2 linked regions of the Homo sapiens genome follow. The protein of the gene in region 2 purifies or fractionates together with the protein of the main gene of each other region. This does not show direct contact. Each region holds a gene or a part of one and is shown on either strand. Other genes may lie near its edges.

Evidence for each region. Proteins that work in one complex are often made in the same cells at the same time.
Region 1: the proteins of PPAT (region 2) and TYMS fractionate together in Homo sapiens (co-fractionation; one large-scale study listed by BioGRID). This does not show direct contact.

What each region holds. Positions count from the first base shown.
Region 1 is NC_000018.10:667,541-670,909, reverse strand, and holds part of TYMS (thymidylate synthase), read right to left. Parts: exon of another isoform or gene 3,231-3,369; coding exon of another isoform or gene 3,158-3,230; intron 1,839-3,157; coding exon 1,737-1,838; intron 593-1,736; exon of another isoform or gene 219-592; coding exon 43-218; exon of another isoform or gene 1-42. UniProt on the Homo sapiens protein: Catalyzes the reductive methylation of 2'-deoxyuridine 5'-monophosphate (dUMP) to thymidine 5'-monophosphate (dTMP), using the cosubstrate, 5,10- methylenetetrahydrofolate (CH2H4folate) as a 1-carbon donor and reductant and contributes to the de novo mitochondrial thymidylate biosynthesis pathway.
Region 2 is NC_000004.12:56,401,053-56,404,708, forward strand, and holds part of PPAT (amidophosphoribosyltransferase), read right to left. Parts: intron 2,350-3,656; coding exon 2,237-2,349; intron 2,134-2,236; coding exon 1,988-2,133; intron 1,130-1,987; coding exon 1,057-1,129; intron 430-1,056; coding exon 278-429; intron 1-277. UniProt on the Homo sapiens protein: Catalyzes the formation of phosphoribosylamine from phosphoribosylpyrophosphate (PRPP) and glutamine.

The sequences.
Region 1 (3,369 bases), on a different chromosome or scaffold from region 2:
AGTGTGGTAGGCTGGCAAGTCACCCTTCCCGAGACAGCCCACCTTCAGGCCCGTGATGTGCGCAATCATGTACGTGAGCAGGGCGTAGCTGGCGATGTTGAAAGGCACACCGAGGCCCATGTCTCCCGATCTCTGGTACAGCTGGCAGGACAGCTCACTGTTCACCACATAGAACTGGCAGAGGGCATGGCATGGAGGCAGCGCCATCAGAGGAAGATCTGAGGAACCAGCAGAGGAAGATAAGGAGGGATGGTGGTTTGAAAGACCACAGCTAAAGGCAAAGTAAAACAGGAGAGAAACAGAAGCCAACTCATATGGTGGAGACCAGGAGAGAGAGCCACTGGGCTGCAGTGATGTCCATAACAGCCTCTGCAGCGATGGCACGGAGCTGAGGGAGACTATCCATCGGTGCAAGGTTTCTGCAGGTGTCCATTTACGGCTGAAGCAATGCTCTTCCATCAGAGCTGAAGGGATCTGGGCTACCTCGTGGCACCAGATTACAAATACAGCAGGAATAATTCTGTTTGCCACAGGAAACTGGTGCTTCTGGTACACCCTCCTATATTAAAAGTCTCTATTACATGGCCAGGCACAGTGGCTCATGCCTGAAATCCCAACACTGGGACGCCAGGGTGGGCAGATCACTTGAGGCCAACTTGAGTTCGAGACTAGCCTGGCCAACATAGTGAAACCCCGTCTCTGCTAAAAATACAAAAATTCGCGCGCCTGTGGTCCCAGCTCTGGGGCTGAGGAATGGGAACTCACTTGAACCTGGGAGATGGAGGTTGCCGTGAGCGGAGATCACACCACTGCACTCCAGCCTGGGCAACAGGGTGAGACTGTGTCTCAAAAAAAAAAAAAAAATAAGTCTCTATTACAGATGCAAGTATTTCACTCTAAGTACTTATGATATCCTGATAGAGTTTTGTTGTTGTTGTTGTTTTTAAATATTCAGGGTCTCACTCTGTTGCCCAGGCTGGAGTGCAATGGCGTGATCATGACTCACTACAGCCTCAAATTCCTGGGTTCAAATGATCCTCTCGCCTTGGCCTCTGGAGTTGTTGGAATTACAGGTGTGAGCCACCACACCTGGCTCTACACCCTGGTAGAGTTGAATTTTACAATATAATTGTTAAAAATGTTAGTGAGGTGGCAGCGAGCTGGAACTTCATCTGCTTCCATTTAAAATGTTAACATCTTACATGTAGTTTCTAGGCAATTTAAAACCCTTTTTGGTGTAAGAATGAGTATAAATACACAAATTAAGATCATCTGGTTGGGAGGCTGAGGCAGGCAGATCATCTGAGGTCAGGAGTTCAAGACCAGCCTGACCAACATGGTGAAACCCCGTCTCTACTAAAAATACAAAATTAGCCGGGCATGGTGGCACATGCCTGTAATCCCAGCTACTTGGGAGGCTGAGGCAGGAGAATCACTCGAACCCAGGAGGCAGAGGTTACAGTGAGCCAAGATCACGCCGTTGCATTCCAGCCTGGGCAACAGAGCAAAACTCTGTCTCAAAAAAAAAAAAAAAAAAAAAAAATCCTCTGGGCCCAACCTCATGATCTGAAGGTGAAAGTGCAGCAAAATGTGACTTGCCCAACGTCACACAATCAACCATGTGGCTGGGGGAAGTTCCCAGGGTCCTGCCTCCCTCAGGTGCCTCTGCACAAAACCAGATTGCTTCCCTCTAAGAGTATGGTTAGTATAAATGAAGACGACGGGGTTCTTTCAACCTCTTGGATTCCAAGCGCACATGATGATTCTTCTGTCGTCAGGGTTGGTTTTGATGGTGTCAATCACTCTTTGCAGTTGGTCAACTCCCTGTCCTGAATAATCTGTAGAATTGTCAAAAAGAGAGGACAGGTACATACATTAATCACACATGTCATGAGATGGCCTTAGAGGTCATCTATTACAGTCTCTTACCCAGGGTCCCCCCTTGACCCATGGCTACAAGACATCTGGTGCATCCTGCAAAGTTTGCAGATCTCGGTGGGTTGAGTTCAAGGCCCTGTCTGACTCCTGGCTCTGTCCTCTGGAGCCCTAACAAAGTCTTTTTCCTCTTCTACACAGTCCTTTGAATATTTGGTCTGTCATGGAGTCACCTCCTCCTGTTCCCCCCATAGCTAACCCTTTCCAATCTCAACAATCTTAATTTCTTCCAGTGCTCCTCGCAAACTTAGGCTCTAAACCCATCAGCGATTCTTGTCACAATTTCACTGACAAAATCTACTTTATCCTTGTCTCACAGAGAGTGTTGTATCTTATGTAGAATATAGTATTCCATATACTTTCCAACTAACAGAGGACCATGGATTCCTTTCTATCACCTCAGCAGCATGTTTCCAACACTTCCACCTAAAATTACTTTAGAGTTTAGCAGCTCAACACACGACTGACTTGGAAACATCAGGAAACCTCTGTAATGATTACACCACCTTGTACTTTGCTCCCATTTCTGGTCTCTGGATTTTAATCCCTTTCCTTCCTTCTGAGATGGAACTGGAAGCTGAGAAGTGATTTGTTAACTGAAGTGCAGAGCTTCATAATCTCCTTTGGTTAAATTTCTACCTATTAGTGTCAGACTATATTCTGGTTCAGTAGTTCTCAAAATTTTGGGAGGAAAGTCCTCTCATGGTCACTGTTCCGAAAAAGGTAACATCAAAGATTTTAAAAAGATGAACCTTGGTAGTGTAGTTCTGTAACTTGATTGTAGTGGTTACAAGAGTCTACACGTGCTAAAATTGCAAATACACACATACACAAGTGCACGTAAAACTAGCAAAATCTGACAACTCTGAGGAATGCACCAATGTGAATGTATACAGGATGTTACCCAAGATATTATCACTGGGGGAAACTGGGTAGTGTGTCCAGGGAAACTTTCTGTGCATTAAAAAAAAAAAAAAAAAAATTCCTGTGAATCTGTAAAACAAAATTAAAAACAAAAAGGGACAAACTTTCCTACTAAAATCCAACAGCTAAGCATTCATACCACTGTAAACTAAAACCATAATTTTATTAGGCCTTTTAAGCGACAAGAAATAATTGAATACTAGGCAGGATTTAAAGCATCATTAAGCCCGGGGACTGGCCTCACATCCTACGGACACCCTACAACTGAGGTGCAGGCAACGACCTGCAGAACACTTACCTGCACAAGTAACTTGGCCCACGCAGCAGCTTTTTTCATTGTGATAAAGTACACATAATATTAAACTTGCCATTTTTGTGTGCAATTCAGAAGCATTAAGCACGTTCCTGATGTTAGGCAACCATCACCATCACCCATCTCCATCACCATCACCATCACCATCACCATCACCATCACCATCTCCATCACCATCACCATCTCCATCACCATCA
Region 2 (3,656 bases):
CAAACTGGGGAACTCAACTGTGTGGTTTTAAAAAAAAAATCGACCTTCATATAGATCTAGAAAATCATAATCCTTACTCCTAACAAAAAACAAAATCCAAGAGTCAAAAGGAAGTGAAAAATAGTGATCTTATGACTTGTGGGCTCAGTCCTATATCCACAACATATAACTATATGCCTTCAAAGAGCCAGGTAAGCCTTTGAGGCAAGAATTGCCATGTTTCAAGGAGATAGCTAAAACATTTATATGAATGTTCAAAGAAAAGAAATCTACTTACCTTCGAACATACTGTCTGGTCTTGCAAAATAAACATATTCAAAGATACAAAAAGCCACTGGGTTTCCTTCAGACCTTGATATAATATCAAGAGTTTGGACATTGTGTCTGGATATTTCCACAATTTCTCCAGGCAAGACTTCACGGTAATATCTTGGGAAACAATGTTAAAGAAAGAAGACTTTTAATAAACTAGTCCTTAAGGCTGATGAAAATATTAATTATAAAGCACACAGAGTACCTTCCCTTAGAGAAACAATTGATTCATTCAATATAAAATCTAGAAGTGACTTTTTAAAGTGGTATGTCTCCTGCAATGATTTCTTTATAATCTCTCTGTAAACACTAAGTTCTAGTATAGAATTAAAAAATTAAGGGCCCTAAGTTGTATTGAATTTTAAAAGAATAAAGTATAAAGAAAACATTTTCTCCTGGCTTACATTTTTCTGTCATAACTATCTCTCATTGAGGAAGTTCTTCCTTTCTAAAATAAGTCTCTATTTTCATATTGTACTGTAAAAAGAGAAAAATATACAAAATAAAGAAAATAAGTTTCATAGTATCTTGAAAGAATGCCAGCTTCAGAATTAGAAGCTATTACTAGAACATTAAACTCAGTGCAACTGCTGAGCATAACATGCATAAGAAAAACCATTTATAAATATTTTCTTGCAGACATCAAAAAGAAAACTTTCAAACTTTCACATAAATAAGAAACTGTCTAAAAAAAATTCTTTTCAACATGGGAAAATAAAATATGTCAAACAAGGTAAAACTTACCTTGCACCAATAGATAAGAAGCTACAAGATTCTGAAGACACCACCCATCCTTCTGTTTCTGATGTTTTTTTCTCTGTAAATCACAAATCAATTCAATTAATGGATTCCAGAAATTTTAAGAGGCTATTTCAATGGAACAGCTAACACTAAATAAATAAGTAAATAAAACTCATAGAATAGCCATTTCTATGACTTTAAGAGCACATGGATCCTCATTTGACTTGAGCCAAAGATAAAATAAATGATCTTCTAAGATTCCTTCTAACATTATGATTTCATGGCTAGAAAAAGATATCTTGATAAAAGTGAAAAGAAACCACTAAAATCATACTGCAGAAATGAAAAAGCTAGGCAAAGGACATGAATAGCCAATTAAGACAGGAAAAAATAGGAATCTCTATTAAAAACATTAAAAGGGATTCATCCAGCCAGGCGTGGTGGCTCACGCCTGTAATCCCAGCACTTTGGGAGGCTAAGGTGGGCAGATCACCTGAGGTCAGGAGTTTGAGACCAGCCTGACCAACATGGAGAAACCCTGTCTCTACTAAAAATACAAAATTAGCTGGGTATGGTGGTGTGCGCCTGTAATCCCAGCTACTCGGGAGGCTGAGGTAGGAGAATCACTTGAACCTGGGAGGTGGAGGTTGCAGTGAGCTGAGATCGCACCACTGCACTCCAGCAGCCTGGGCAACAAGAGTGAAACTCGGTCTCCAAAAAAAAAAAAAAAAAAAAAAAAAAAAGGGGGGGGACTCATCCTCAGGAGTACTCAAAGAAACGTACTTTAAAAAGGAAGAATACATTTATTTTTATTTTTCTTACCTAGCTCCCTCCCACCCATCAACTTTCTATACCTAAAGATTTCAGGGCTTGATAGCAGTAGGACAATAATGGAAAAACACTATGAAATGATATTCCTTCTAAAGTTTATTACCTTTGTCATTTATATCAGACACTGGAATAAGACGACCAATGCATAAGGGACGATTTCCATAAGGATCTCGTACTGCATAAATAACATCTCTGTGCATTATAAGCAGGGAGTATGCTGTGGGTGCTTCCTTCATCAAGTTTTTAATCCTGGAATTAATTAAATAATTGAATGAATAACTTCAGTTATAAACATATGCAAGGCAAAACTCTCCTTACTAGAGCTCTAAGTTTAGTCCAGTTCTCTGCTTACCTGGCTACCCAGTCTGGGGTGTCATCTTGTTCCTGAGGAGGGGTATACGCCAGTAACTGGGTAATCATTTCACTATCAGAACTTGTAGACAGACCAATACCATGACGCAGAAGCTATATAGAAAAAAAGAGAAGTTTAATCATCAGAGGGGAAGCTCCACCCCACCCCAAACCCAGTAGCCAACCATAATGAAAATAAGGCATTCTGTGGATGTCCAGTTACAAAAATCCTGCATCCCACTAATGCAGCAGTCCCCAACCTTTTTGGCACCAGGGACCAGTTTGGTGGAAGACAATTTTTCCATGGACCAGGGACAGGGGATGATTTGGGGATGATTCAAGCGAATTACATTTATTGTGCACTTTATTTCTATTATTACTATACTGTAATATATAATGAAATAATTATACAACTCACCATAATCTAGAATCAGTGGGAGCCCTGAGCTTGTTTTCCTGCAACTAGACAGTCCCATCTGGGGGTGATGGGAGACAGTAACAGATCATCAGGCATTATACATTAGCTTCTCATAAGGAGAGCACAACCTGGATCCCTTGCATGCACAGCTCACAACAGGGTTCATGCTCCTAGGAGAATCTAATGCTGCTGCTGATCTGGACAGGAGACAGAGCTCAGGTGGTAATAGTGAGCGATGGGGAGCACCTATAAATACAGATGAAGTTTCACTTACCACTCACCTCCTGCTGTGTGGCCTGGTTCCTAACAAGCCACAGACTGGTACTAGTCCCTAGCACAGGGGTTGGGGACTCCTGCGCTAATAGTATGTATATACTAATAACGGATGACCATGGCTGGAGGCAATAGGAAATCTAGAAGATTTTCAAGCAGGAAAAATGTGCTTTATGAGATGTACAGAAAAGCTTTTGAATACTAAATCTGAAGGCAAGCAGACCTGAAAGTGGGTAGGGGTTCCCAAAAATTTGATTTGTGGGTCTGACATTTTCTACCCTCAACACTCTTGATGAACTGGGTATATTCCTATAAAAGTAGTACACTACAGTGATAACTTTCAAGCTGGGTTTGTTAGTGATCATAATGGTGGCTACCCATCCTCATTGATTATTACTGATAGAAGAAAGTAATCAACTGTATTGAACAATGAAATGTAGCAGATGTAATAAATATCGCTTGAGTGTACTCTATGATAATTACAAAGTTCTGAGCAGGACTGACCAAGACAAGGGCAGCCCCATGGACATGCACAGATTGAGTCTGAATGGGCACTACAGAACATTTTCAGTAGGGAGCTAAAGGTAAAGATAAAGTTTAGCATCTAGGTAAGTCATTATGTCAGGAAACAGTGAGTTAGTGGTTATCTCTAAGTGGTGAATTTTTAAGAAATTTTTACTCCATATTTATACTTTCATGATTGTCTGAATTTTTAAATGAACTATGTATT